Homo sapiens: one gene and its partners. The protein of the gene in region 2 purifies or fractionates together with the protein of the main gene of each other region. This does not show direct contact. Each region holds a gene or a part of one and is shown on either strand. Other genes may lie near its edges.

Region 1 (8,289 bases), on a different chromosome or scaffold from region 2:
TGGACCTCTTAAAACATATCCATAGATTCTAGGTTAAAAACTAAAGATAGCCACCTACTTTTAAATATTTTTTCCATCGATGGTTCCAATGCTGCCTCTTTGAGTTCTTGGCCAGTTCTCCCACGCCGGATCCCAATTCTTGTTTTGGTGGCATATTCCTGACACACATGCAAACAAAGACACGTACCACCCACATGAAAACAGAACGTTAATAAAATAAAATGCAAGATCCCTTTACACTAGAAAACTCTAGTTAAAGAAACTTGGTACTTTCTATATACCTAACTTCACTATGGAAATTTATTAGCCAACTTAAAAAACTAAATGTAAAAATAAATAAATAAATGTAGACCTTCCCTGTGCTCCACCTTTGGAAGTTAGTAATTCATTATATTATTCTTAGTTTCAATTTCAGAAAAATTGTTTCTTTCACAAACTATAGATTTACATACCTAGAATTGTTATATTTTAAATCCTAACCAAATACCAGGGTGAGAATCTGTTAGCATTTTTAAGATATGCATTCTACAAGCATTATTAGCTATATTTTGTCATCTGGGATATGGACTCAAGAACAGCATCTTTCCTTAACATGAAGCCAAGAAGAGGGAAGACTACTACTTCCATTGTGGCTCTTTTTCAACAGTGGAACAGTTAATTTAAAAGAGAAAATGTCTCCTAGCTTCTTTATATTGTCCTCATTACCTCACACTTCAAACCTTATAATCTGAATGCCAGAAGATAAATCTATTATAAAAATGGGTTTCTTTCTAACCTGACAGATATTATCAACCTCTAAATAAGAGATAATATATTTAGTAATTTATTAATAAGCTATTGGCCAACTGGTAATATCCCTGGGTTCTTAAACTTCTGACTATGTGCTCCAGGATCTCCGTTACACTATGTAACTCTCAATCCCTCACAATGTACTCTAAATTTTCTAAATGAGAAACTCCAGAAGCTGTAAGCGAAGACAGAGTTACAGAAACTCATTTTCTATTTCATATGGGATAAGGAGGGACCAGAATGATACAAACTAATGGGGAGAAAGAGCTGATTGGGGATATTATCAGGGCTAACTGACGTATAACACACTAAAGGCAGAGCAGCCATACTCTGCCAAAAAGAAAGGGCACAAATGGAAAAAGAAGCAATATAAAAACATTCAGATTATCTTTACCCTGCTAGGTGTTAACAGCCATTGATTCTTCGTGATGGAATTCTTCACAACAGGGGAGGCCTTGGTGAAAGCTGGGTGGAAAACCCTAGAAGGTAGTGTCCGGAGACACACCAGCCTTGCAGCCAACATGGTGGTGGTGCACCAGGTCTACCGAGCAGATCTGAAATGCTAGTTTAAAAAAAAGGCAAAACCAACCAAAAAAACATAAGTAAAACAACCTACTAACCAATTAAGAGAAGGACATATGAGAGTCAGAGTCAAGGAACAAACTATTTTTTAGTAGAACAGGAAATAAAGCGACCTTTTTAATTTTCAGCGATGAATTCTTTGCCCAACCATCCACTGTAATGCAAGAAACCCATCCCAGAGAACACAGCTGAAGATGGAGGAACAAACTAGGTTTAAGTCCCAGTTTGACCAATCAAAATAGATGACTGCAAAAATTATGTGTAACACAGAACGGCTGTTAATAACTGGACGTGATTACAGAGTCTGTGATGGTTTTTACAAATGTAGTTTTGGCTTAAGATTTATACCAGCATCCAGTGGGAAAATTTAAAAGAATCTACATAACTTTTGGGCAAAGGAATAGTGTCATCCAAAGAAGACATGAATAGCTCTTCAAGGTTATACTGCATTACAAAGCTAAAAGGTATTAAAAGAAGCCAACTATATGAATTTCAGCTAATCATACCAAATATTACTTTCCTTCAACATGAGATATAAAAATATTCTAAGTTAACCTATTCTATATGTCCTACTATAATGCGTAAAGGACATTTAGTCTTTCAAAGTAAACAAGTAAACTCAGTTACCAACCAGGTTTCCCTTACATTAGACTCCCTCGATGGTGTCTTCAAAAGAAAAGCATGCTAAAAACTGGATTATCTTAGCTCCAGGGCACATTATACTAGATGGGTGGTCAACCAGAAGTCAGCAGACAGTGTTTCTGTAATGCTAAGGTGAGGTGACTACAATAGGTCAGAATGAAATGACGAGTGTAAACCAACTGGGGCTACCAGCCCATCTCTGCCAATGATTTGTAGTGAATTCTAGGCAAGTGATATACTTCTGGGCCCATTTCCCCATCTGTAACATAAGGATTCCGTGTTCAGACTACAGCGTTGACCCTTAGACTACCTGCTTGAAAGTGCCCCGGATGCATCTTAAAATGTAGGCTCCTGGGTCTTTCTTTGCTCCTAATGATTCTACCCCTAGGAATAAGACCAAGAACGTGTGTTTTAACGAACACTCCAAAAGCTAAGAACTATTGCTTTAAGATACCCGAGCGTCCTCCGAGCTCTGCAACTGAACTATTAAGGGTCTTAAAATTCGGCACCCGGCCTTTGGGAAAACACCCAGCGCTTTTGGAACTTTCGTGCCATTACATCATCTCAACCTATGGCTGTCCTGTATCTTCCTCAGTACTCAGTCCACTGGTTGGGGCCGAAGAGGTCCAGCTCAGAGTGACCTCCATGTGGCGTAACAGCCCAGAGTGGGAATCCCGCTTCTGACAGGTTAGAAGTGACCTTGTGAGGAGTGTGGATCTCTAAGACTCAGATGTCGTTGCTATAAAATGGGGAAAATACTACCGACCCTAATCCAAGGGCTTATGCCTCCGTGAGCATTGATGAGTTTGGGTGCCTGGTCCCCGAGAAAGTTCACCCAGCCCGCTAGATTCAGATGAGAACCCGGCAGCAAACTTCCCTGTCAACCCACAACACCTCTGCCCCTGCCCCAGGTGCCGCTACCAGCGCAGCGGCTGTACGGCCTCGCCGCAAGGATGACTCAGCACCTTGTTGCCCGAGGACAGAAGCACAGCTACACTGAGCCCTTGCCCGCCTGACCAGGGCCTTGTGCCGCCGCCCTCTCCACCAGGTCACCCACAGGACTGCGACCCCAACGCGCAGGCCGGCCCTGACGCAGCCAGCAGCACCGCTGCTTCCAGCCCTTCCCCCCGCACCCAGCGGTCCCGTGAGGGCGGCTGTCAGGACCACCGGGGATCCCGGGCGCCCGCCGGCCAGCCGGAGCAGTACCTCGGTCCCCGGTCACCTTCGCCTCGCAGTTTCCCTTCCGGGCCCCTAGCGTCGGCCTCAAAGAGCACAGTTCCTCCGGCGCACTGCATGACGCAACATCGAAAGGACGTAAATAGTACGAGCAGCCAATCACGGGCAGGCCTCTGTCGGAAAAGCGGCCACACTGGGGGAGGCGGGGTTCCGGGTTGAGGAGGCGGGGTTCCAAATTGGTGGGGCGGGGCCAGTTGAGGATTGTTGCAGGGAACGTCATAGTCAGCGTCCATTTTGCGTGTGGGCATGGGAGTCGTCTCGGCCATCTTTGTTTTGGGCAGTGGAGCTCTGTTTTGCTTTTGTTTTAGTCGTTTCACTCGCCGCAGCTATAAGAATTATGTAAAAATTGAAAGAAAGTAATGTTAGAGTTAAAAATTATTCCGTTTATTCCGTTCCTTTTTGAAGGCCTTTTTGTCCCTTAATTTATCGTGAGATAAATATCTTTTCAAATGTGTCTGCTTCTGAGCCGAGTCATCCGGTTTCTGGGGTCTCATGCCAAATGTTAGATGGTGACATCCAGAAAAGATTTTTTCTAGATGGTTTTTTCATTGCTTTGTGACTTTCCCGCCCACATTTTCAAGTTTCACCCTAAACCTGTGTAATAGGCCTGATAACAGCCGCCTCTGCCTTGCACCCAGGATTGCTCTGAGGACTAAGATGTTTCCATTGCGCGTAATTTGATAGGTGAAGAGCTAGTTGTGGAATACGCGAGAGAGTTACTTTCTTTTTCACTCTCCCTCTATTTCAACAGATATTTACTGAATGCTCAACTTCGTACCAAGCTCTGTTCTAGAAATATATACAAATGAATCAGCCGGGCGTGGTGGCTCAAGCCTGTAATCCCAGTACTTTGGGAGGCCGCGGCGGGTGGATCACTTGAGGTTAGGAGTTCGAGACCAGCCTGGCCAACGTGGGGAAACCCTGTCTCTACTAAAAATACAAAAATTTGCCAGGCGTGATTGGTGCCTGTAATCTAAGCTACTTGGGAAGCTAAGGCAGGAGAATCACTTGAACCCAGGAGGCGGAGGTTCCAGTGAGCCCAGATCCCGCAACTGCACTCCAGCCTGGGCGATAGAGGGAGACTCAGTCTCAAAAAAAAAAGAAACCAAAAAAACAAAAACAAAAAAACAGCAAATGAATTAAACCCGTGTGTGCTACCACTATTTTAACAAAATAAAGTCCTTGCTCTGTGGCTTTACTTTCTGGTAGAGACAGAACATAGAAAAAATATAATGTGATAACTTAATACCATGAAGAAAGAGCAGATTAAAACCCTGAAAGGGTGATAAGGTGATTAACAACATGCAAAATTCATGAACCTTTATCTCCTAAGCAGTAGTTAATTGTGATTTATGATTCCTAATCATGTAAACCTTGACAAATATAAAGACTTGCCTTCTATGTGGATAATAAAAGAGTCTGGCAGCAACACAATTCTTATCTCTTTACGCTGAAAATGGCAGGAAAACACTAGAGAAATCTCACGAAACTGAACAGATCAAGCATGATCAGTTTAATTTTTATTTTGATCTATGCCCAATTTTATTAGCTAGCAAATAGGTTTTCTGTTTGGCTCCTTCAGTGATAGTCTTTTTTTCTAGAGCTTCTGTTATCAGCAAAGAGAAAGGATTTACAACACAGTACCAGAATAAAGATCTTGAAGTCAATGACTCAAGCTTTCTTCAAGATTCCTATTAAAGCTTATTCTCTCCATATTGGAAGAAAAATGTCTGATTTCATATTTTCCTTTCTCAAGTAAAGGGCTTGTATTGTTGTTTCCACAGGGGTCAAATATTTTGAAGCAGGGGAGGAATCTGGTCATATCATTGGGAAATATATGCTCTTGTGGCAGTGTAGGAAGGGAGAGGTTCCATGGACCAGGAGACCAATTAGGAATTTATTGTAGTTGTTCAACCAAAAGGCAATAAAGGCTGGAATTAAGCCAGTAGAAAGACACAGAGGGGTTTATGACAGAGATATATTGCTGAAGTGGAGTTTGCAGGATTGAATGGTCGGTCAAATATAGCTGATAAGAATGAGGAAGGCTCCCTGAGTAATCCTTCTGAACTGGGTGGATAATTTTATCATTAATTTAGCAATAGGATACAGGGAGAGATACAAGTGAGGGGAAGTAGATACATAAAACTTAGTTTGAAGTGTTTAATTGTTAAGTTCTCTGCTTCTAAGTTCTTAGAGTGTAGGATAGAGAAAAGGACAAGCCGGGAATGGTGGCACATGCATGTAGTCCCAGTTACTGGGGAGGTAGCCCAGGAGCTTAAGGCCGGCCTGGGCAACATAGGGTGATGCTGTCTTTAAAAATAAATAAGTAGGCTGTGTGTGGTGGCTCACGCCTGTAATCCCAGCACTTTGGGAGGCCGAGGCGGGTAGATCACAAGGTCAGGAGATTGAGACCATCCTGGCTAACATGGTGAAACCCCGTCTCTACTAAAAATACCAAAAAAAAAAAAAAAAAAAAAAAAAATTAGCAGAGCATGGCGGTGGGCACCTGTAGTCCCAGCTGCTCGGGAGGCTGAGGCAGGAGAATGGCATGAACCCAGGAGGTGGAGCTTGCAGTGAGCCGAGATCGTGCCACTGCATTCCAGCCTGGGCAACAGAGCGAGACTCCACTTCAAAAAAATAAAAAATAAAAAATAAAAGAATAAATAAGTAAATAAAAAGGAAAAGACATGATTCGTAAATTCCAATACTATATATATGTCACGGTTTTTATTACAGTCTGCTGATGAATTCCTTATTCTCCACTTGCTGGCTAAGTGAGATATGCTGCATTATAGTGGAGAAAACTCAGAGCCAGGACAAAAGATAAAATATTTTATTTACTTTCAGTTAAAATAAATGCTCTCACCTTGCCCTACTATGCTTTCCCATCAGAAGATGTGGTATGAATGAAACAGAGTTGGAAAGGGAGTTTGCTGGGGCTTTAACCTCTGCCCTCCCTGATGGAGTCTCCCAACAAAGGGAAGGTGCTTCTTCCTGAAAGGTTGCAGATGTTTCTGAATGTAGGGACCAATTGGCACCTGCTTCTCATGTGGTTGCTAAGTGGCAGACAACAGAGCAGGTAGGAAAGTTACAAGATCTTCCCCATCTTGGCCTTGTTTTCCCTTGGAATCCCTAAGGTCTAGATAAACACAAGAATGTGATTGTGAGCACGCACCTGCTTGTTTGCACCCTTCGAGATGCTGCTCAGTAGTGAGGCGACACTAGAAGTATGTGTGGGTGAGATGCCCAGATGGGCACCAACAGACCATTTAGTGTATGACAAGGCAGAGCCATTTGACTCTGCTTGGGTGAGAGATCAAACTGTGCCAACTTCAAAAGTTATATCCTGCCAGCCACAGAAAGACAATGAAGCCATGGGGACTACTCCCTTTAGATTTTGCTGAACGGCAGCTGCATGACAATGCAATGACTAAGAGGTAGAGTGGAAGGACAGAGAAGCTACACTTTTTCCCCTCCTGTTTAATGTAAATGTTTCTAATCCAGTTGTGGCCCAGGAGAGGAGAAAGGACTTTGAACTCCAATGTGACTGATGGTAATAAATCCTGAAACTGACAGACAAATTGTCAGACTGTTCTGAGCTTGCAAAATGGAATAAATAGGCTGTCTGCTCTAAACTGACTGGGGCCTTGAAAATGACATCGATGGCAGTTTAAAGAAAAATGTAGCTCAATTTTGCATTCACCTAACTGACAATATATACCCCTCACATATGTGCAACTAAATGCTGTAAGTGGGCCAAAGGACAAGGTCATTAGTGGGGTAGTATCTGTGGAGGGACAGATATTGGCAGAAAATTGAGACTAGTGTCATGCTTTCTGGTCAGTCTTCCAAGAGGAAACCAACACTCAGAAATTGTAGTAGCTTTTCTTAAGAAAAAGGTATTAGGTTGTTCTTGCACTGCTATAAAGAAATACCCGAGGCTGGGTATTTTATAAGAAAAGAGGTTTAATTGGCCCATGATTCTGCAGGCTATACAGGAAGCATAGTGGCATCTGATTCTGGGGAGGCTTCAGGAAGCTTCCAATCATGGCAGAAGGCAAAGAGGGGCAGGTACATCACATGGCAAAAGGAAGAGCAAGAGAGAGAGAGTTGGCGGGGAAGGGCCAAACACTTTTAAATGACCAGATCTCCTGAGAACTCACTATCTCAAGGACAGCACCAAGGGGATAGTGCTAATCCATTCAAGAGAAATCCACTCCCATGATCCAGTCACTTCTGTCCAGGCCCCTCCTCCAATAACGGGAATTATAGTTCAACATGAGATTTGGGTGGGGACAAATATACAAACTATATCAAAAACATAGCAAGGTAAATGGTAGATCTGGGTCTAGAACATGCGATGGAGGCAAAAGCTGGTGCTTGAGGGATTAAAAAAAATCTCTCTTTTAATATATAATGCATGGATATGCAGACAGCACATGTGCTAGTAAAGCTATGACATTAAGATGTCATGGGGGAGGGAATCAGGCAAAAGCATCTGAAATGAATTCCTAGGGAAGCAATAATAAAAAAAGGCTGAGGAGCACTGGCCTAGAATACAGGATTTCTGTGATTCACTCTGATATCAGGCTCATCAGAAAAATTTTTGGTGTTACCCTCTATGACTCTATCAGTGAGTTGTTATTTGAGGTGATTTTGTGATCTTGAAGGAAATGAAAATATTTCACCCCCAAATATATTTTCTTGACATTGTTCAAGATGACTATTCAGAAAGGCTGGAAATAAAATAATAGCTAAAAAGCTGTCTTTTGTGGGAGAGATTAGCATTTGTAGAAAAAGTCTGCATTGATAAAGTCCTGCATTCTCCGAAGGTCTTCTCTTGTCTGATCTAGGAAAGACTGAGAGTCCGGCACCATAAAGGTCTGAAAGAAACATTTACCATCTTTCTCTCTGAAGGCTACTACCTATGAAGTTACATCTGCATAACAGGATCGCTGTTGCTAGCCAACCCTCCTCTTCTCTCTCTCCCATAACCTGTCTTGCCGCTGTAACCTGACTTACCACCGTAATCTCTTTTTG
Region 2 (7,443 bases):
CTGGGGAACAAAGAACTTGTCAGGAGGTCAGAAGGGAGACCGAGGGGATTCCAGCTCTGAGGAATCCATGTGTGGCATTTGAGCGTGGGTGGCAGCTGGCACGAATCCTTGGTTCAGAACTGGCAGGGCCCCCTCAGGAGTCAGGGCCAGGTCGTGCCAAAGCCCCAGTGGCATCGCGGCTCTGCTATTCCTGAACAGCTGTGCTGCTCCCCTTGGCATAGGGTTCAAGAATGGGGGCAGGAGTGTGGGCCTAGCCAGGGAAAGAGGAGGGTTCAGAGAGTAGACACACACACACACACACACACACACACACACACACACACACACAGTTCACCATGAAGGTGCAGATGCCTGGCTCAGGGAGAAAAGAGGGGAGGGAGAGGGTGGAAAGCGAATGTGTGTGTGTGTGTCGGGGGGGAGATGGCTTTGTGGTTCTGTGAGTGTGTTTGGTGTTTGGGTGTGCATAATGTCTCTGTGTTTATCTTTGTGTGTGCACTTCTGTTTCAGTGTGTCTCTGAATGAGTTTGTTATCAGGGCGAGGGTAGGTTTCTGCACTACTTCTGTCTCTGACTCTGCTTGAGCCTCTCAGCAACTCAGCAGAGAGAATCTTCCCTTCTGGGAGGGTGGGAAAATATAGCTCATCAGGGCAGTATGGGCCAATGCTTTATAAACACACACAAATCACAGGACATTCTTGTGTGTGATCCTTAGCTCCCCACAAAGCTACGGTTGATACACATTTAAAAGAGAGAGAGCTGAGTCCTATGTGTATGCTTGTGCCATTTCTATATGTCTGACAGTCTGACGAGCATGTGTGCTTATGTATTTGATGTATTTGTCACTTTGTCCCCACGGCAGTATCTGTGTCTACAGCTTGGTGTATACTCATGTGTGCTAAGCCCATATTTAACTGTGTCCCTAGTGACGTTTGTCTTTAAGCAGCAACATAACAGGAGTTAGAAGCACAGGCTCCACAGTGAGGCGATCCATTTCGAATCCCTGTGTGGACAGTAACTAATGCATTAACCTTGGACAAGTTTCTTAACTTTTCTATGCCTCAGTTTTCTCACAGGGATAATAATAGCACATGAGGATAAATGAGATCACATTTAGTGCCTGACACAGGTCAGCATATGTGAATGGTCCTGTCTTTGAACGTGCTCCTCTCTGAGAGCTGTCTGCTTGGTTGTGACTGTGGTGTGTCACATCTCAGCTGGATTATAAACTGCTTTTGGGCAGAGCGTGGGTCTCAATTATCTTTAACAATACTCATGACACCTCAGTGTCACCTTGGTGTCTTGTGTATATGTCATCTTGAGGTGAAATGAGACCTGTTTCATGTGAAACAGGACGGGTGTCGGATGCAGGCCCATGCCTGGGGTAGTACATGGAGGGCAGGTGGGAAGCTGGTGATGGCAGTGACAACACAGCCCAGCCGGGCATCAGGGTCCCTCATGGTCACTACTGCATACCTGCCAGGTCTCTCTGCAAACCCAGGCTCCCTCCTCCTTCGTGTCTCAGTCTGGCCTGGAAACTCACTGAAGGGCTTCCTTCCTCCTTTCTCTGCTCACCCCACCCTCGGGCACCAGCCTAGGTGTGTGTTTTTAATGGATGAGATGAGTGCCCTCCAATCTACACCATGCATCGCTGTTTTGCAGCTTGTGTGTGTTTGCCCATGGCTCTGTGGGGGTGTGTTTCTGGGAGCCGTCTTTCTGTCTGATCCCCGCTCCATTACAGTGGGGACATGTGTCTGTGTGTGTGACGTGCCTCGTGCCTGGGGTTTGTTCTCCTCCCCCAGCTTTCCCAGTTACATAAGCAGCTGAGGGGTCCGTCAGGCCTGGGCTGTGGGCTCCCTCTGCTGGCCGCCTCTGGAACCCGCAGTCTGGGTTCCAGAGGGGCCTGGGTTCCAGAGGGGCCTGCTGAAGACACTGTTCTCTCCTTGGGCCTTATCCCCTCTGGAGGGAGACACCAACCCAGTTCTCAACGCCAACCTGCCCCCAGCTCCTTCCCAGCCCCAGGCCACAGGGTAAGAGAGGATACCTCACCTCCCTGAAGACCCCTCTCATCATACTCATACTGGGGGTTGGTTATGACTTGTTTATGAAATGTATCCCTAACATATAGAACTATGTTCCCTGAGGGCAGGGGAGCAGGCCCACCTTGTTTACCATGGCATCTCCAGTGCCCAGTACAAGGCCTGGCCCAATCAATATTTGTTGAATGACTGAGTTTACAGGGTGGAGAGGCTTGGGAGGAGGGACAGTGAGGTGTAGGAAGATTTGGGGCTTTGGGGACAGACAGACAAGCCTGGGCTGAAGTCACCCCTAAGCCACTTAAAAACTGTGTGGCCTTGGGCAAGGTACTTAACCTGCCTAACCTCAAGTTTCTCTTCTGTTAAATGACACCACCTTGCAAAATATGCTATAAGGACTAGGACTAATATCCAAAAGGGCCTTCTTGTGTAAGCATTTCATAAATGACATCTATCATTATTACAATTGGTAACATCTTTCATCCCTCAAGCATCATGAAGGCATTAAATCCACTCGATAATTAAATCCATTATAAAGGGAGAGACGTATTCTTCCAAAAGCTTCCCCTATGAGTTTCAGTTTTCACATAGCTCGATATGCCTGTGGATGGATTTAGATGATGAGGTTCTGGAGCAACCTTCTGGATATTTCAAAGTGGGAATAAACAGGCACCTTATTGCCCTGTTCATGGGCCAGTGCTGGCAGTCCTGGGAAGTGAGGGCTGGACCTCTGATCTCCCTTCAAGGCCTCAGTTTCTCTGGTTTCTCCAGGGTTCCTCAATGTGGCTTCTACTGGCAACCCCGTGAGCATCTTCTCAGAGTCAGGCACTGTGCCACGCTTGAGGAATACCATGTCAAGGAAGGTCTGGTCTGGCCTGTGCCACTTACCCTCTCTGGGCCTCAGTTTCCTCTTCTGTAAAGGGGGGTGAGTGAGTGGGAGGGAAGGGGGATGAGAGGGGAGAGGGAGGATGTTGGAGGGTAGAGGGTGGTAAATGGGCTCTGGGGTCACCTCCCACTGACAGCCACTCTGACAGCCTTGGCTTTGCAAACCTGGCCATCTCTTCTCCCCATTCTGGTCTCATCCTTCCTGCCCCTGCCCACTTCCCATCTTTACAGTTCAGGAAGAGACAGAGCACCTGGGAAGGGTGCCTCCTCCATTCTCCCACCTCCAGGGCAAGCCCCACTCTTCCTAGAACAGAGCAATGTTCATCTCTTCCCACTGTCACTGAACATAGAGACTCCTTCACCTAAATGCCAGGTCTAAACTAAGCCTCTTAGGAAGCAGTTCAAATAATAATTCAAAACCTAAAACAAAATAATCCTTATCTCCCATTTTGTGTTAGTTTCCTGTGCCAAACACTTTATGTACATTACCTATCATCACAATAACCCTTTGGGTGATGTGATCAACCTCAATTCAATTTGCAGAGGAGAAAACTGAAGTTGAAGGAGGTTAAACAACTGGGCTAGGATCACCCAACCCAGAAATGACGTCACATGGACGGCCCCCTCTCCTAATCCATTTTTCTTTTGGTTTTGCCCTCTGAGGGGGTGAAAAACAGGTCTCCAGTGACCTTCTGGATCCTGGAAGCGCCCTTCAGCTCAAACCCTTCGCATTCAGGAACTCCTGGCTTCCGCCAACCCCTACTTCAGCAGGGTTTGCAGCGAGGACTATGGCTCAGAGCAAATAACTGAATTCTAAATGCGTGGTCACAGTCACCTCGCCAATCCCAGGGACCCTGCACCCAACTCTCCAGGAAAGGCTGGCAGGTGCGGGGTGGAATGCGCTCTGTGCGAGGGTGGGTGGGAATTTCGATGCGCAGAGGTGCAGTTAGCTCACTCCTGCGGGGGCCTCGGGCGGAGCCAGGGCCAGGGGCGGGGCGAGGCCGGGGTCCAGGGCGGAGCCAGGATTGGAGGCTGACGTTAGCCCTGCGGGGACGGGGAAGGGGTGCGGCTTGGGACTGGGGCGGGGCCGGGGCCCGGGGAGGAGCCAGGATTGGAGTCCGACTGTAGTCCTGGTGGGGCGGGGCGGGGGAGGGGCCGGAACTGGGGCTGGGCCGAGGCCCGGGGCGGATCCAGGGCTGGAGTCTTGGCGGGGCGGGGCGGGGAGGGGCGGGGCCGGGGCGGGGCTGGGACTCGATGCGACTCAAAGGTGAGTTTCGAGGGGCGGGGCGGGGCCGGGGCCAGGTGCGGAGCAAAGGCCGGAGTCTGGCGGGGGTGGGGCAGGCAGGGCCAAGGCTGGGTCCGGGGCGGGGCGGGCCTAGACGGGGCGGTGGAAGGGGCGGTGCCGGGGCGGGCCGGGGCGAGAATGGTTTCAGAACTGCCGAGGGCTGGAGGGAAAGCAGCGGGAGGGGCGGAGGGAGGGGATTCGGCAGCTCCAGTTCAGCTCGCTCGGCGCACCCACGCCTCGCTGCCCCGCTTCCTGCCCTCAACCTGGGCATGCGCCCCCCACCCTTCCGGCCCCCCAGAACCCGCGCCATCCCCCGGAGCCTCCCCAGAGCTGGCCGCGCAGGATGGGCGCCCTCAGGCCCACGCTGCTGCCGCCTTCGCTGCCGCTGCTGCTGCTGCTAATGCTAGGTAAGCCAGGCCCCCGTTCCGGTTCCCGGCCCTGCCGGGCAGGTGCCTGCCATCCAGCACCCCCCTAGCATTTCGGGGCTCCTCACATCCTCCTCCGTCAGGGGTACCTCCAGCCTCCCCGGGGTCGGCGTCCAGCTGCGCTTTGTGGCTGTCCGCCGAGCCAGTCTTGGGAAGAGTGCAGGCTCCCCAGCTCTAAGCCAGGGACTGGGGCGTAGAGAGGACCCACTAAGGTGCTGCCCCAGGCACTGCTCGGCCTCCCGGGGCAGGCCACACATCTCAGCTAGCATACCCACGTACTGGGGTCGCTGCACCAAATGCTGCGACTCCTTTCTGCCCCACACTCAGCTCCAGGCCTGGCCTTGGGTGCCCGCCCTACGAGGGCAGTGCCTGCCCAGCTTCATAATTGCCCCAGAGTTGGCTGGAGGCCCAGAGGCCAGTTCTGCCCACGATCTTTGAAGTAAGTCTCTCCCAGTTGCGCTCCACGCACTTCATCAACTGGGGGCAGTTCCCTCTCTCACCCCCATCTCCACCCTGGGTTGGGTCCCTCTTTGCCCTTCTTCCTGTCTCCCAAATGGCACTTGGCTCTGCAGCCACCCATCAGTTTTCACACCGCTTAGTTCCAGCTTCCTTGCCTCAGGAGAAACCAGGTTCCATGGAGACTGATCCTGGGATCTCCAAGCACCTTGTGCCTGCTGTGGTGGGTGTTCATGGTGGGGTGTTCTGGGCCAATCTTGCATGGATGCATGGGGATAATGACAGTGGAATTGTTTTTGGCCTGAACTGGAGGGCTCCCTGTAGGAGGTGGTCTGGGGAAGAGTATGGCATGGAGACAGTGAAACTGCCAGTACAGATGTTGATGAGGCTGAAGCCCTTGAAATGAGAGTGAAGCGTGGGGGTGGGGATGGTGACTTCAGAGCTGCTGTCGTCAAGGCAGAGGCTGAAGGTAGCCCCAGCTGCCTGTTTCTAGACCAGAGCTCCACAGTGGCACCAAGCAAAGCCTTCCCCTGCTGCAGGTCCCTGGGCCCTGCAGGGTTAGGATGAGTCCTCTCCCTGGTCCCTGGGCAGGTGGCAGGAGGATGTACAGAGAGGAAGGCGCTGTGGGGCCTGGGTTGCCTAGCACTTGGTGTGTTTTCCCCAGTGGGCAGCATGGAGCAGGGAGGAGCCCAGGGAGGTGGGGAAGTGCTGGCCTGTGTTTGAAAAAGGAGCACGCAGAGGTCTGAGCACCCACTGCCTGTGGGCACTTACATTCATTTCACAAATGAGGAAAATGAAGTAACTTGCCCCAGAGAGCACATTTAGTGAGTGTTGGGGCTAGGATTTGAACACAGATCTGATTCCAAAGCAGGCCTCTTTGCTGTCCCTTTCCTTGCTGCGACTGATACAGAGGAGGGGAGAGAGAGCTGTGTGGCAACTGATTTCCTAAGGCTGTGGAGGTGACTTTCCCATGGGCATCTCCAAGCATCAGCAGTTGTGGAGCCAGGAAAATGGGAGGGGGCCTTCTGAGCAGTCTGCCCTGAGGCAGTCAGGGAAGGTGTCAGCTTGGCTGTCTCCACCGTCACTCTGATTATGAAACTTGCCTGGCCTGGGGCAGGGCTCTCCTGAGTCACATACGCACTCACACATGGTCAGAGCTGGAGCTCTTAGTTCTCCTCCAGTGTGGAAACTGAGGCCTAGGACAGAAAGAGACTGGATCCCAGGCCACACAGCTGGGCATGGGGATGGTGCTGGAATCCCACTTCCTGACTGGCAGCTGTGCCCTTAACAACAGACCATGAGTTCTCCCTGTGACCCAGCCAGAGGATGAAGGAAGGGGCTAGGAGCCCAGAAGCAGGGGTGGGGAAGTTCAGAGGAGCCGTTCTAGAGAAGCTGGAGGGTAGAGTTTGACCACAGACTCCTGGGCATTTTCCTCTAGCTCCTGCAGAAAGTCCATGGTATCCCCCTGGGAGGCCTAAAAGTGACACTCTGGTTGGTGAGGTCAGTCCCTTCAGGCCTGGCCTTGGAGTTTCCCCATCTTCCTCTCTGGTTTTGCCCCTCTGGAGGAGTGTGTGGAAGCCATCTAGGGACAGCATGATCTTGGCTAACATATTATACTTTTCCTGCCTTACCTTTCTCATCTGTAAAATTGGGAGAGGTGGGGAGGGGTGGCCTAGCCCTCTTTACATTGAGGTTCTGTGATCTTATCTAGTGGGAGCTATGGAAGGAAAGAAGGGAGGAGCTAAGCCCTCTAAGTCTGCCAGGAGTATCTGCTGGGGTAGGGTTGGGCATAGGGGTGGAGTAGGGTGAAGAAGAGAGGTTTGGCCTTTCTGAAGGGAGAGAGATGAGAAGGGGCAGCTGGGGATTTAGTGCCTCCCTACAGAAAGAGAGCCATATATGTAAATGAATGCATACCATGTGCAAATGAAGGCTTTTGTTAAGGAACTGGGGCAGGCACCTTCTGTATCTGCTGGGCTAGCCCGGAAGGTTGGCAGGCACTGGAGGAGGGGATCTTCTGCCCCCAATGGCCAGGGCAGAGCCTGGATCTTGCCCCAGAAGCCCCAGCTGCCTGGGCAGCCCTGTGGGGTGAGAGAAGCAGTGAGCTCATGGCGCAGCTGGAGAGGGGAGGGCATTGTGTGGTGAGAACTGACTGGGCCTGTGCCCTTTCCAGCTAGGGTCACTGGCTCCATTGTCTCGCCCAGGTGACACAGCTGAGCCAACTAGCACTTCTGAGCAAGACTGCCAGCTCCCCTCAAGCAAAGGAGAGGGACATGTAGTCTCAGAGTCCCCTAGCCAGAAGGCTCCCCTTGCCAGGTGCTGAGGAAGGAATGGCAGACATGGAGGTGGGTGAGTGGCAGGGA
Region 3 (7,443 bases), on a different chromosome or scaffold from region 2:
TCCATCCTCTTGACCTAATTACCTCCCAAAGGCCCCACCTCTTAATATCAACACTTTGCAGATTAGACTTGAACATACACATTTCGGAGGGACACAATCAGATCATAACATCTATGTTTACTAGTTTATTACAAAGCATATTTTAAAGGATACAGATGAACATCTAGATTAAAAGGGTCTTAGGGGCCAGGCACGGTGGCTCACACCTGTAATCCCAGCACTTTGGGAGGCCGAGGCGGGCGGATCACGAGATGAGGAGATCAAGACCATCCTGGCTACCACGGTGAAACCCTGTCTCTACTAAAAATACAAAAAATTAGCCGGGCATGGTGGCGTGTGCCTATAGTCCCAGCTACTCGGGAGGCTGAGGCAGGAGAACGGCATGAACCCAGGAAGCGGAGCTTGCAGTGAGCCGAGATAGCGCCACTGCACTCCAGCCTGGGCGACAGAGCGAATCTCCATCTCAAAAAAAAAAAAAAAAAAAGTCTTAGGGCCAGGTTCCAAAGGAAACTGTTCCTCTAATCACAACACTTCTGGAAGAATCTCAAGCATCAGAGCTTCTGTTCCCATGGGGTTTGGGAGGTGACACCTTCCCAGCATGTGGATGCATTCACCAACTTGGAAGCTCTCTGAACCCCATTGTTTAATAAGTTTTTATGAAGTTTCATTACCTAGGTATAATTGATAAAATCATTGGCCATTAGTAATGACAGTCAAAAGAAATGTTTTTATATGAGGAATATGAGCTTCCTCTAAATTATCAGGCCCAAAAAAAGGCATGAGAAAGAGACAGCAGTCACATCTCACTTCCTCCCTCTTGCTGAATAATCATCTTTTGAAGCTGCTTGCTATGTGGACTCTAGACTGACTGCCCCCCAAGTAGCTATAAATTAACCTAACAATACTGCATGCTGCACAACATAACTCATACCCTATCATTCAACAATGTATAGCCATCACTAATCAATGTTATTTCTGTAAACCAATGAGAATTCCTGACAAACAACTTTTTATCTGCCCCATGCCTAGTCCCCTTTTTTACCTTTAAAAACCTGCTTGTAACAAAGGCTTAATGAAGCTCATATCCCAGGTTACTTGCATGTGAGTCTTCTGGGCAGCTGTCTTCATTTTGGTTCAAATGTAAACTCTCCACTTTTATTAATTTTGCCTCCGTTTCTTCTTTTAGATAAACTGTAATCAAATCAATCTCCAGCCTCTCTCCTCTCTCTGGAGGTTGAGAGGTGGGGCTAAAAGTTTCAGCCCTCTAATCACATGGTTGGTTTCTCTGATAACCAGCTCCCATCTTCCAAAAGCCACTTCATTAGTGGCATAAACTCAGGTATGGTTAAAAGGGGCTTATGATGAATAACAAAAGATGTCACTATCATTCAAGAAGTTACAAGTGTTTTACAAATGCCCATCAATGATAGCCTGGATAAAGAAAATGTGGTACATATACACCATGGACTACTATGCAACCATAAAAAGGAATGAGATCATGTCCTTTGCAGGGACACAGATGGCGCTGAAAGCCATTATCCTTGGCAAACTAACACAGGAACAGAAAACCAAACACTGCATGTTCTCACTTATAGGTGGGAGCTGAACAATGAGAACACATGGACACAGGGAGGGGTACAACACACACTGGGGTCTGTCCATGGGACAGGGGGAAGGGAGAGCACCAGGATAAGTAGCCAATGCATGCAGGGCTTAATACCTAGGTGATGAGTTGATAGGTGCAGCAAACCACCACGGCACACGTTTACCTATATAACAAACCTGCACGTCCTGCACATGTATCCTGGAACTTTAAATTAAATTAAAATACACATACACAAATGAAAAACATCAGGATAGCAATTAGCTGGGGTGGAGGGATAAGAAAGAAGAGGAAACTCTCAGAAAATTGCAACAATATTGGTAATATTCTATTTCTTAAGTGGAGTAATGGGTTCACGGGTTTCTTTTCATAATTCTGCTTTGTAACTTGAGCATATTTAAATTTATATATACACTATATATATTATGTATATGTAGCAAACATTTTATAAATACAAATGATATTATCTTTATAAAATGCCTTAATGAAAACCTAAAGAAAAAAGTTACAAGGGTTTTAGAAGCTCTATGCAGAGACCACATATATATTTCTTAAGTCACAGGTGGCTTTTAGTATACTCAGTGTTGTGCAACCATCCCTATTATCCAATTCCAGGACACTTTTACCATCTCAAAAAGAAACCTCAAACCCATCAGAAGTCACTCCCTATTCTCCCCACCTCAACATCACATAGGTGACTCTATCAATTCACCTACTCTGGACATTGCAAATATAAATGGAACTATACAATATGTGGCCTCATGTGTCTAACTTCTTTCCCTTAGCATGTTTTCAAGGTTCTTTCCTCAACAAAACTCCATTAGTTTGTCTAAAGCTTTTCTTTTAACAGATCTATAAATCTGTTGTAATATTGTCTTTTGACAGACAACTTGTGAAGGATTTGGAGTAGAATTTGTGATAAATACATGGAATCTTAATTAACTGTTAACAGAAAAATCAAACTCTGTAAATTACTTAAAGAGGTTTATTCAGGGCCAATGAGTGACCACAGCCCCAGGAAAATACAAACCCAAAAAGCCTTAAGTGTTCCCGAGGCAGTCAGATTATAGTTTGGTTTTATACATTTCAGGGAGCCAGGGGTTACAGGCAAAGACATAAATCAATGTGTGGAAGGTATACACTGGTTTGGCTCCAAAAGACAGGATGTCTTGATGTGGGGGGTTTACAAGTTATATGTGGACTCAAATACATAGATATATACACGATATATGATTGATTGATAGATAGATAGATAGATCTCTTGGTAGGGGTAGATAGGGTCTCCCTATGTTGCCCAGGCTAGTCTTGAACTCTTGGCCTCAAGTGATCCTCCCACCTCAGCCAGCTTGACCAAGAGATTTTTTAATTTGCAACTGGTTAAAAGAGTGAGGCTCTGTGTAAAATTTGGAGTCAGCAGAAAAGAATGTTTAAGATAGTATGCCAGAATCAGCCACAATACACTGGGTCAAAAAAGACCTCTTCAGCAAGATTGATGGTCTGCAAGCTTGACTTAACCCTTGCCTTGCACGGCCTTAGGTCTTGTTTATAATTTGGTATCTTACTACCACAAAGTCTGTTAGTCTTATGATCTCTACTTTAACAAGGGGTGTTCAACCTCCCTTTCCAGAATGGCTGGGAACTCAGTTTTTAAGGTTTCTCTGGGGTCTCCTTGGCTAAGAGGAGGTCCGTTCAGTGCTTGGGGGGCTTACAATTTTATTTTTAGTTTACAAACACAAACAAACGTAATTATTTATTTTTATGTTTTTTGTTTTGTTTTTTGCGACAGAGTCTTGCTCTGTCAACCAGGCTGAGTGCAGTGGCAAGATCGCTGCTCACTGCAACCTCCACCTCCCGGATTCAAGCGATTCTCATGCCTCAGCCTCCCTAGTAGCTGGGACTACAGGTGCGCCCTACCACGCCCGGCTAATTTTTTTGTATTTTTAGTAGAGACGGGGTTTCGCCATGTTGGCCAAGCTGGTCTCGAACTCCTGAACTCAAGTGATCCGCCCACCGAGGCCTGGGATTACAGGCGTGAGCCACCGTGCGTAGCCAAGTAATTATTAACTCCACAGAAAATAAAAGGCTGTGCAGGAAGTAAAAATTAATCAAGTCCATATATAGACCTCAGATACATTTCGTTTGGGCTATCCTGCACTTTACTTTGTAATTAAACACCACTATTTAAAAATCAGGAAAATTGCACATAAAAATCCAGCTGCAAGTGGGCGCTCTGGAGTTCCCCAGTCTCCACTCACTCGTCCTCCCAGCCCCCACAGGCCTCAACGTCGCCTATCCCACTCCACCAGCCCAGTCTTCCACCGCCCTAGGAACTCTCCTACGCCTACGCAAGCAGGGAGGGATAGGGTGACAGCACCGACAACAAAGGGTCGTCTCCCGCACTCCGTATGAGGATGGCGTACTGGTCGGGGGGCAACCGAAGCCTTTCTTCCTAGGTTCTTTATCTTTTCTAAGTTTCCCATGACCTATCGCTCCGCTTGAGCCCTCAGCAAAGATGTCACCCGCCGAAAGGTGTGGCCGGAAGCTGGAGGCGTGGCTTCCGGACGTGCGGGGCGAGGCTCGTCTCGTTTCCGCCGGCGCTCCGAGTGACGTAGGGAAGCGCGCCGCGCACCTCATGGTTCCGGGGACAGTTAGGGCGGCGGATGGAGGTCAGCGGTGGTGCTCGCTGCGTAGGTCTTGTGGCACGGGGAGAAGGGGCGGCTGATCGTGGGTTTCGAGTGCACAACACAGGCGTGGCTGGGAAGGTCCTGGGATGCGGTGGAACTGGGGAGCAGGCTGGGACGCGGTGGGATGCCGTGGGCCTGGCCGTCTGCTCGTTCCGTGCTGGCTTGCCAGTGCGCACGCTTCCTCTCTAGCCCGCGCGGCCAGGCCTGGAAGACGCCGCCCCTGTTGACCGTCCATGACCCCAGCGAGCCAGTTTTCGTGACTTAGTGCAAGTTGTTTTCTCTCTGCATTTTAGAACTAAAGTTTTGGATTGCTGTTTGCCTAAACTCAAGTCTGGCTCCTGGGCTTCCGTTTACTCGGCTAAACTGCTCTTAGGGCTCTTAAAAAATTGGAAAGGCGGCCGGGCGCGGTGGCTCACTCCGGTAATCCCAGCACTTTGGGAGGCCGAGACGGGTGGATCACTTGAGGTCATGGTGAAACCCTGTCTCTACTAAAAATACAAAAATTAGCCAGGTGTGGTGGCGCGGGCCTGTAGTCCCAGCTATTTGGGAGGCTGAGGCAGGAGAATCGCTTGAATCCGGGAGGCTGAGGTTGCAGTGACTCGAGATCGCAGCATTGCACTCCAGTCTGGGCGACAGAGCGAGACTCCGTCTCAAAAAAATAAGTCGGAAAGATTTCTACACTGTGCTTAGGCTCAGGAAGTGGTAGATGTTGCGTTTGGGCAAATACTCCGACTCTCTGATCTCTCTCTCTTTTTTTTTTTCTTTAAGTGGAGTTAGACTAAGCTTTTTACAGCTGCTTTAATCCCCTCATATAAAAAGAAAATGTGCTGGCCATATACCAAGTTCCAGGAAGTGGAGAAAGATCAAACGTACATTCTGCTTTGGCAGAAATGAGGCCTAGGTGAACGTTTTATCTTGCCCTTGTCGCATGTCTTCCCTGGATCATGTAATCACCGTAGGGAGCTAGACTAGCTGATAGAATTTTTTTTCTTTTTTTTTTTTTTTGTGACAGAGTCTCGCTCTGCCACCCAGGCTGGAGTGCAGTGGCGCGATCTCGGCTCACTTCAAGCTCTGCCTCACCCTCCCTAGTAGCTGGGACTACAGGTGCCCGCCACCACGCCCGGCTAATTTTTTTGTATTTTTAGTAGAGACGGTGTTTCACCGTGTTAGCCAGGATGGTCTCGATCTCCTGACCTCGTGATCTGCCCGCCTCAGCCTCCCAAAGTACTGGGATTACAGGCGTGAGCCACTGCGCCTGGCCGATAGAATTGTTAAAAGCAACATCAAGGCTATATGTAACACATTGCTGGAGATGGCAACATTGAGTTTGGCCTTGGAAGGATGAGATGTATTTTAAAGGGTCTTATAGGGGGAGGAGGAGACCCAGATAACAAGCCCTGTAAGGTGAAGTGGAAGTGCAAGGCCTGTTTAAAATGGGGCCTTGTGTTGCTGGGAGGCAGAAAAAGCTAAGACTGAGAAAATCATTCTGGGCCATGTTATGAAGTGCTTCTTATTATTGGTTCAGAATTTTTGCTGTTAGAAATTTGGTGGGGGGGTTTTAGTAGGCTAGTGATGTAATCTACCTTGGTTTCGAGAGGCTCACACCTATGTCTACAGTGTTAAAATATATCCACAGAGGCTTTGGGAATGTGAATTTTTTTTTTTTTTTTTTTTTGAGATGGAGTCTCTCACCCAGGCTGGAGTCCAGTGGTGCAATCTCAGCTCACTGCAATCTCCGCCTCTCAGGTTCAAGCAATTCTTGTGCCTTAGCCTCCCAAGTAGCTGGGATTACAGGCGTGCACCATGATGCCCAGCTAATTTTTATATTTTTAGTAAAGATGGGGTTTCACCATGTTGGCCAGGCTGGTCTCAAACTCCTGACCTCAAGTGATCCACCCGCCTAGGCCTCCCAAAGTGCTGGGATTACAGGCGTGAGCCACCACGCCTGGCCAAGCCCGTAATTTTTAATCCTGGTTACCCTTGAAATAAAAAAATAAAAAAAAATTAATGCTGTCTAGGTCGTGTCTGCAGAGATGCCATCATTTAGGAGGCCTTGGGCAGGACCTGGGAATCTGAATTATTGAACCACATCCTAGGTGATTTCAAATTACAAGCAGGATGGAAACCCTCCCACCCAGGCTGTAATGTTCCTGAGTTTTGATATTTGATGGCATTCTGTACTGAAACAAAAATCCTGTGAGACTTTTGCTTTAGAAAATACTATCACATACCTATGGATTGTCAAGAAAGACTTAGTCTGATTTTACAGATAGAGTGGCTTTGACTATTTCATTTCTCAAGTTTGTGAGTCAGGAACTGCCCCTGTAGTAGCCCCTTCTCTCTCCTTTTTCTCTTCAGGGTTTGGAATCACTTGCTAGGAGTCTTGTCTCTCTGCCACCCAGGACATCATGGCAGCTCACCTGGTAAAGCGATGCACGTGCCTCCTGAGAGAAGCTGCTCGTCAGGCCCCTGCCATGGCTCCAGTTGGCCGACTGAGACTTGCCTGGGTAGCCCATAAGACTCTGACTTCCTCAGCCACCTCACCCATTTCCCACCTCCCAGGTTCCTTGATGGAGCCGGTGGAGAAGGAACGAGCATCTACTCCCTACATAGAGAAGCAGGTGGACCACCTCATCAAGAAGGCCACAAGGCCAGAGGAGCTCCTGGAGCTACTTGGTGGCAGTCACGACTTGGACAGCAATCAAGCAGCAATGGTACTTATCCGGCTCTCTCACTTGCTGTCTGAGAAGCCAGAAGATAAAGGCTTGCTCATACAGGATGCCCACTTTCATCAACTTCTCTGTCTGCTCAACAGTCAGGTGGGTGCCGGAGTGTGGTCTGAGAGCATAGACAAGAGGAAAACAGCCAGAAATGCTGGGGTCCACAGCAGCCAGTGCTTACCAAGCATAGACAGGGGCCTTGCATCTCTTGTGATATTTTTTATTTTTTTATAAATTTCAAAGTGCTTTATCGTGCTTTCTCTTTGTTTATCCTTACAAGAGGCCTGTTAGGTAAATATTGCTATGCTCGTCTTACAGACAGCCAAGACGCATAGTGATAGAAGCATGGGAAGTGAGCCTGGTTCTTCTCAGTTCTTTGGGTGCTTTCCCCCTCACCATATAGTCTTGACTTGTATTGCTCTCTGCCAGTGTCTGG
Region 4 (7,359 bases), on a different chromosome or scaffold from region 2:
TACACAAATGAGCAATAAGCAAATGAAAGGATGCTCAACATCATTAGTCACCAAAGAAATGTTCCTCAAAGCCATGAGACAAAAAACAAATGGCCTGTGGCCCCAGCTATTCGGGAGGCTGAGGCAGGAGAATCACTTGAACCCGGGAGGCAGAGGTTACAGTGAGCCGAGATTGCGCCATGGCACTCCAGCCTGGGTGACAGAGTGTGACTCCGTCTCAAAAAAACAAAACAAAACACAACAAAACAAAATCATGAGCTACCACTTCACATTCACTAGGATGGCTATAATTAACAAGTCATATAATAAGAGCGTTGGGCAATTAGAACCCTTATACACTGCTGGTGGGAATGTAAAATGGTACAGCTGCTTGGAAAAGTCTGGCAGTTCCTCAAAAGGTTTCACAGAGCATTAACACATGATCCAGCAATTCACTCCTAGGTACACACTCAAGAGAAATGAAAACATGTCTGTATAAACACTTGTATGCGAATGTTCATAGCTGCACTATTCGTAATAGGTGAAAAATGGAAACAATCCAAATGCCTACCAAATGGCAAAGGGATAAATAAAATGTGGTCCATTCATTCGATGCTCTTATTCAGCCATCAAAATGAAGTACTGATACATGCTAAAACATCGATGAATCTTGAAGACATTATGCTAAGCTTAAGAAACCAGACCAAAAGGCCACACAGTGAATAAATTCCACTTATATGATGTCCACAATAGGCAAATGTACACAGACAGAAAGCAAATTAGTGAATGCTTAGGGTTGGGAGAGTTTGGGGAAAATGAGGAGTGACTGCTAATGGGTATGGGATCTCTTTCTTTCCGTTTTGTGACAGAGTCTCCACTCTGTCACTCAGGCTGGAGTACGGTGGCATGATCTCAGCTCCCTAGCAGCTGGGATTACAAGCATGCACCAACATAATTTTCTCTATTTTTAGTAGAGACGTAGAGATGGGGTTCCACTGTGTTGGCCAGGCTAGTCTCATGCTCCTGGCCTCAAGTGATCCACCCACCTCGGCTTCCCAAAGTGCTGGGATTACAGGTGTGAGCCACTGTGTCCCGCCTGGTACAGGATTTCTTTCAGGAGTGAAGAAAATGGTATAAACTTGATGATGGTGATGGCTGCACAACTCTGTGATTATATTAAAAACTGTTGAATTGGAAAGTTTACAGAAGTGAATTGTATGGTATGTGAATTATATCTCAATAAAGCTATAAAAAAATAGGTATCAAATAGAAAAGGCTACTTTTTACCTCTCATGCTGACACACATGATGGCTGACACAGTACATATGACAACTGCCAGGAGAATCATGAGGACGATCAAGTAACTGCTGAGCAAGGCTCCACCAGCACAGTCCAGCTTTCCTCTGTGCATGAGATACAACGTCAGAATGCCAATCCACCTGGCAAAAAAAAAAAAGGGAAGGGTCAGAAATGAAATCCAAGGAGCTGCTGTGTAGAACATGATACAAAGAAATAAAAGGGGACAGGGCGCGGTGGCTCACACCTGTAATCACAGCACTTTGGGAGGGTGAGGTGGGCGGATCACAAGGTCAGGAGATCGAGACCATCCTGATCAACATGGTGAAACCCTGTCTCTACGAAAAATACAAAAAAAAAAAAAAAAATAGCTGGGCGTAGTGGTGCGCACCTGTAGTCCCAGCTACTCGAGAGGCTGAGACAGGAGAATTGCTTGAACCTGGGACGTGGAGGTGGCAGTGAGCCGAGATCGTGTCACTGCACTCCAGCCTGGGCAACGATATGAGACTCCGTCTCAAAAAAAAAAAAAAAAAAAAAAAAAAAAAAAAAGAAATAAAAGGAGTTAATATTTTCCAAAACAAGGCAAGGTTCACTTTGGAATATAATTTTCTTTTTGTAGAGACAGGGTCTTGCTATGTTGCCCAGACTGGTCTTGAACTCCTGGCTTCAAGTGATCTTCCTGCCTTGGCCTCCCAAAGTGCTGGGATTACAGGCATGAATCACTGCACCTGGCCTGGAATATAATTGCCAACAATAAAAGATCTAGGCCCGGCACGGCGGCTCACGTCTGTAATCCTAGCACTTTGGGAGGCCAAGGCAGGAGGATCACTTGAGCACAAGAGTTGGACACTAGCCTGGGCAACACGGTGAGACTCCATCTCTACAAAAAATAGAAAAAGTTAGCTGGGCGTGGTGGCACGAGTCTGTGGTCCCAGCTACTTGGAAGAGTGAAGTGGGAAGATCGCTTGAGCCCAGGAGGTTGAGGCTGCAGTGAGTGGTGATCGCACCACTGCACTCCCGCCTGGGTAGCAGAGTGAGACCCTGTCTCAAAAAAATAAAAAGAAAAGGGGTCTCACTATGTTGCCCAGGTTGGTCTCAAACTCCTGCCCTCAAGCAATCCTCCCGTCTCAGCCTCTCAATGTGCTGAGATAACAGGCGTGAGCCATGGCGCCCAGCCAAGAATCTACTTTTGCATAACAATGATTCATTCCCTGCACAGATCCTCTGGGAACAGACTTCAGGTACCAATGCCACTTCCCACTGATTCCACACTTTGAAAGACAACAGCGTTGTATGTTGAGCCTGTCTGCTTCTCACGAAATGCAGCCACAACCGGCTCGGTATTTTTTCCTATCCTTCGTGTTGCAGATTCAAGTGCCCCGTACAAAGGGAAGGAAGGGCACAAGTGGCTGCTCCCGCCTCAAGAAAGGAGAACTCGAGGCCAAGGCTTTTGCCGGCGGTAACACCCTCGTGGCACCCCAGGGCCAGGTCTCGGCGCTGCACACAAAGGGGTGCTCGCGTCCTGCTGCGCGGACTTCGAAACCCCCTGTTTGTCCCCCGGGGTCAGCCCACACACTCTGGGGGCTTCGGTTTGTCATCCGTCAAATGGACACAGCACCACTGCCCACCTCTTCGGGCAGTGGTGAGAACTCGATAAGAGGATGCGTGGCCAGCGCTGGGACCGCGACAGTGCTTGGGAAGCCACTTCTGTCACCGTCTCAAGGGACAGCTCGCCCCCCGCTCCCTCTCCGGTGGGCTCCACCGCCCCCGTAGCCGCCGTCCTTACCACAGCACTCGCACGACCAGCTCGAAGAACCCTGGGAAGACCAAGTCGTCGCTGGCGATGGCCCAGCGCCGGCCGAAGAGTACCATCCCCGGCATGGCGAAGGTCCCGTAGCTCGCACTCAGGAGAGACCCCGCGCGCCGTTCACCGAGAACAAACCAGCACCCTCCGGACGCCGCCACCAAATTATCGGCGCTCAAGCGCAAACGCAGCGAGGGCGGGGACCTGCGCATGCTCACGCTGAGGCCGAGATCGGCGCAAGCGCACTGAGCCCTACACCGCCTCTTCCGCCGGAGCTGTCTGCGCCTGCGCAGAAACGCTGATCCGGAAGGCGCTGGCTGAGTCGATTGCAGGTCTGCCGGTCGGTGAAATCCGTTCTGGTATTTTCTTTTTCTTTTTCGTGAAGAGTGCAGTGATATCCGTTCTGGTGATATTTCCTTTTCCTTTTTTTTTTTTTTTTTTTTTTTTTTTTTTTTTTTTTTTTGGTGACGGAGTCTCGCTCTGTTCCCAGGCTGGAGTGCAGTGGGTGTGATCTCGGCTCACTGCATCCTCCGCCTCCCGGGCTCAAGCGATTCACCTGTCTCAGGCTCCGGTGTAGCTGTGATTACAGGAGCGCGCCACCACGGCTAATTTTTGTATTTTTAGTAGAGACGAAGTTTCACCATGTTGGCCAGGCTGGTCTCGAACCCCTGACCTCAAGTGATCCGCCCGCCTGGGCCTCTCAAAGTGCTAGGATTACAGGCGTGAACCACTGCGCCCGGCCCTGTTTGTCTGTTTGTTTAAGGCAGCGTATGGCTCTGTCGTTCAGGGTGGAGTGCAGTGGCGCAATCATGACTCACTGCAGCCTTGAACTCCTGAATGCCGCCTTGAATTCCTGGATTCCAGCGACTCTCCCACCTCAACCTCCTGAGTAGCTGAGACCAAAGGCACGTGCCACACTCCCGGCTAATTTATTTTTATTTATTTATTTATTTATTTATTTATTTATTTAGAGACATAGTTTTGCTCTTGTTGCCCCAGGCTGGAGTGCAATGGCGCGATCTTGGTTCACCACAACCTCCATCTCCTGGGTTCAAGCGATTCTCCTGCCTCAGCCTCCTGAGTAGCTGGGATTACAGGCATGTGTCACCATGCCCAGCTAATTTTGTATTTTTAGTAGAGATGGGGTTTCTCCATAAATTTTCCTATTTTTTGTAGAGACCGGAGTCTCACTCTGTTGCCCAGGCCGGTCTTGAACTCCTGGCCTCAAACCATCCTCCCGCCGCAGCCTCCCAAAGTGCTGGTATTACAGGCGTGAGCCACTACACCTGACCGAAATTTTCATTTTATAAGGAGGGACGCTTCAGGCCTGGAGGAATTAGCTAGCCTAGAGACCCAGGCTGTCAATGGCAGGTGTGGGACTCATATCCCGTTCTGTGAGACTTGCAAGCATGGGACAACATTGCTTCCATCTGTGCCCCTTGCTGTAAGGAGCCCGTGTTAGGAACCCCTCGAGTTCAGGGTCTGAAACCACCCTGCAGCTGGCGGGGTGGAGTCTGAGCGCTTTTCAGTACCCCCACTGCCCCACCCTGGTCTGAGCCACCTTCATCTCCTGCCTGGGCTCATCACCCCACTGTGCTTTCTCATTCTGCTGTGCCCTCTTCAGCAGCCAGGGTGACTTTGTGAACCTTCAGATAAAGCCTGCACCCTGCCTGGGACTTTGCAAGGCTGCACTTTGTGCATAAAATTACATTGCAGGCCAGGCGCGGTGCCTCACGCCTGTAATCCCAACACTTTGGGAGGCTAAGGTGGGCGAATCACGAGGTCAGGAGGAGATCGAGACCATCTTAGCCAACATGGTGAAACCTCGTCTCTACTAAAATTTAAAAAAAAAGTTAGCCAAGTGTGGTGGCACGCACCTGTAGTCCTGGCTACTTGGGAGGCTGAGGCAGGGGAATCGCTTGAACCTGGGAGGCAGAGGTTGCAGTGAGCCAAGATCGCGCCCTGCACTCTAGCCTGGCAACAGAGCAAGACTCCGTCTCAAAAAAAAAAAAAAAATTACACTCCAGCCCCTGGCAAAGGCCTTTCCCTGGTAGTCACACATCAAAAGTTTGTAAGGGCTCATTTATCTGTCTCCCTGGTTACTATTTGCCTCTATCACCCACCCCACTGCCTGCCGCCTTTTCCCCCTCTGAAAAGACATCAGGGTCATTTTTGCTCCAGGGGTTCTACATTCTGTGTTTCCTCTGCCAGGAATAGCCCCCCTGCAGGTTTTCTGTTACTGGATGGAAAGTCTTGGCTGTGAGTTGGTCAGGGGCTTGCGTGTTGAACCGAGAATTGCAACACAAGGCCGGGCACGGTGACTCACGCCTGTAATCTCAGCACTTTGGGGAGGCCGAGGCGGGTGGATCACCTGAGGTCAGGGGTTCAAGACCAGCCTGGCCAACACGGCGAAACCCTGTCTCTACTGAAAATACAAAAACTAGGCCAGGCACGGTGGCTCATGCCTGTAATCCCAACACTTTGGGAGGCTGAGGCAGGAGGATCACCTGAAGTCAGGAGTTCAAGACCAGCCTGGCCAACATGGCGAAACCCCGTCTCTCCTAAAAATTAGCTGGATGTGGTGGCACATGCCTGTAATTCCAGCTACTCCGGAGGCTGAGGCAGGGGAATCGCTTGAACCTGGGAGGCGGAGGTTGCAGTGAGCCAAGATCGCGCCCTGCACTCTAGCCTGGCAACAGAGCAAGACTCCGTCTCAAAAAAAAAAAAAAAATTACACTCCAGCCCCTGGCAAAGGCCTTTCCCTGGTAGTCACACATCAAAAGTTTGTAAGGGCTCATTTATCTGTCTCCCTGGTTACTATTTGCCTCTATCACCCACCCCACTGCCTGCCGCCTTTTCCCCCTCTGAAAAGACATCAGGGTCATTTTTGCTCCAGGGGTTCTACATTCTGTGTTTCCTCTGCCAGGAAGAGTCCTCCTGCAGGTTTTCTGTTACTGGATGGAAAGTCTTGGCTGTGAGTTGGTCAGGGGCTTGCGCGTTGAACCGAGAATTGCAACACAAGGCCGGGCACGGTGACTCACCCCTATAATCTCAGCACTTTGGGGAGGCCGAGGCGGGTGGATCACCTGAGGTCAGGGGTTCAAGACCAGCCTGGCCAACATGGCGAAACCCTGTCTCTACTGAAAATACAAAAACTAGGCCAGGCACGGTGGCTCATGCCTGTAATCCCAACACTTTGGGAGGCTGAGGCAGGAGGATCACTTGAAGTCAGGAGTTCAAGACCAGCCTGGCCAACATGGCGAAACCCCGTCTCTCCTAAAAATTAGCTGGATGTGGTGGCACATGCCTGTAATCCCAGCTACTCGGGAGGCTGAGGCAGGAGAATTGCTTGAACCCGGGAGATGGAGGTTGCAGTGACCCAAAATCACACCACTGCACTCCAGCCTGGGCAACAAGAGCAAAACTCCATCTCAAAAATAATAAATAAATAAAAATTGCAACAAAAACCCCACAAAGCAACAACGACAACAACAAAAAACAAATCAACAAAAGACAAACAAATGGCGTAAAAAGCACAGATTGATTGACACGAAGTTCAAGAGACCACACAGCTCAAGAGACCCCTCAATTAGGGTCTTCATTAAGCAGAAAGAATGTGGTTAACACTCATGGCTGAAGTGGAAACTTCTGTCTTGTTATCACAGAAGTGCAGATGTGGCCTCTATGCTGCCTTATCTTGCCCAGAACTGGCTGCACCTGCTGATCTTTTGCTTATGCCTTAACCCTTGTTAACCATTGATTACCCTCATTCCTGATTCTCCTGCCTCATTTCCTTTTTTTTTTTTTTTGAGATGGAGTCTTGTTCTGTGGCCTAGGTGGGAATGCCATGGCGCGATCTGAGTTCTGCAACCTCAGCCTTCTGAGTTCAAGCGATTCTCCTGCCTCAGCATTCTGAGTAGCTGGGATTATAGGCATATGCCACCATGCACAGCTAATTTTTGTATTTTTAGTAGAGACAGGGTTTTGCCATGTTGGCCTTGGCTGGTCTCGAACTCCTGACCTCAAGTGATCCGCCCACCTCAGCTTCCCAAAGTACTGGGATTACAGGCGTGAGCCACCGCACCCAGCCTCTCCTGCCTCTTTTTTTGTTTTTGTTTTTTTTGTTTTTTTTGAGACGGAGTCTCGCTCTGTCGCCAGGCTGGAGTGTAGGGCGCGATCTCGGCTCACTGCAACCCCCGCCTCCTGGGTTCAAGCGATTCTTCTGCCTCAGCCTCCCTAGTAGCTGGGACTACAGGCATGGGCCACCACGCCCGGCTAAT

What was found.
Region 1: the proteins of IGSF8 (region 2) and GHITM purify together in Homo sapiens (co-immunoprecipitation; 2 studies listed by BioGRID and IntAct, with this or other methods). This does not show direct contact.
Region 3: the proteins of IGSF8 (region 2) and TBRG4 purify together in Homo sapiens (affinity purification with mass spectrometry; 4 studies listed by BioGRID and IntAct, with this or other methods). This does not show direct contact.
Region 4: the proteins of IGSF8 (region 2) and DAGLB purify together in Homo sapiens (affinity purification with mass spectrometry; 4 studies listed by BioGRID and IntAct, with this or other methods). This does not show direct contact.

Annotation. Positions count from the first base shown.
Region 1 is NC_000010.11:84,134,524-84,142,812, reverse strand, and holds the start of GHITM (growth hormone-inducible transmembrane protein), read right to left. Parts: upstream 3,305-8,289; 5' UTR 3,220-3,304; intron 1,352-3,219; 5' UTR 1,313-1,351; coding exon 1,184-1,312; intron 159-1,183; coding exon 59-158; intron 1-58. UniProt on the Homo sapiens protein: Plays an important role in maintenance of mitochondrial morphology and in mediating either calcium or potassium/proton antiport. Mediates proton-dependent calcium efflux from mitochondrion.
Region 2 is NC_000001.11:160,095,575-160,103,017, reverse strand, and holds the start of IGSF8 (immunoglobulin superfamily member 8 precursor), read left to right. Parts: upstream 1-4,398; 5' UTR 4,399-4,545; coding exon 4,546-4,609; intron 4,610-5,226; exon of another isoform or gene 5,227-7,443. UniProt on the Homo sapiens protein: Member of the immunoglobulin superfamily (IgSF) that links tetraspanin-enriched microdomains to the actin cytoskeleton and plays several important roles in innate and adaptive immunity.
Region 3 is NC_000007.14:45,108,490-45,115,932, reverse strand, and holds the start of TBRG4 (FAST kinase domain-containing protein 4), read left to right. Parts: upstream 1-4,235; 5' UTR 4,236-4,263; coding exon of another isoform or gene 4,264-4,290; intron 4,291-6,645; 5' UTR 6,646-6,689; coding exon of another isoform or gene 6,690-6,695; coding exon 6,696-7,106; intron 7,107-7,443. UniProt on the Homo sapiens protein: Plays a role in processing of mitochondrial RNA precursors and in stabilization of a subset of mature mitochondrial RNA species, such as MT-CO1, MT-CO2, MT-CYB, MT-CO3, MT-ND3, MT-ND5 and MT-ATP8/6. May play a role in cell cycle progression.
Region 4 is NC_000007.14:6,444,687-6,452,045, forward strand, and holds the start of DAGLB (diacylglycerol lipase-beta), read right to left. Parts: upstream 3,269-7,359; 5' UTR 3,157-3,268; coding exon 3,062-3,156; intron 1,419-3,061; coding exon 1,267-1,418; intron 1-1,266.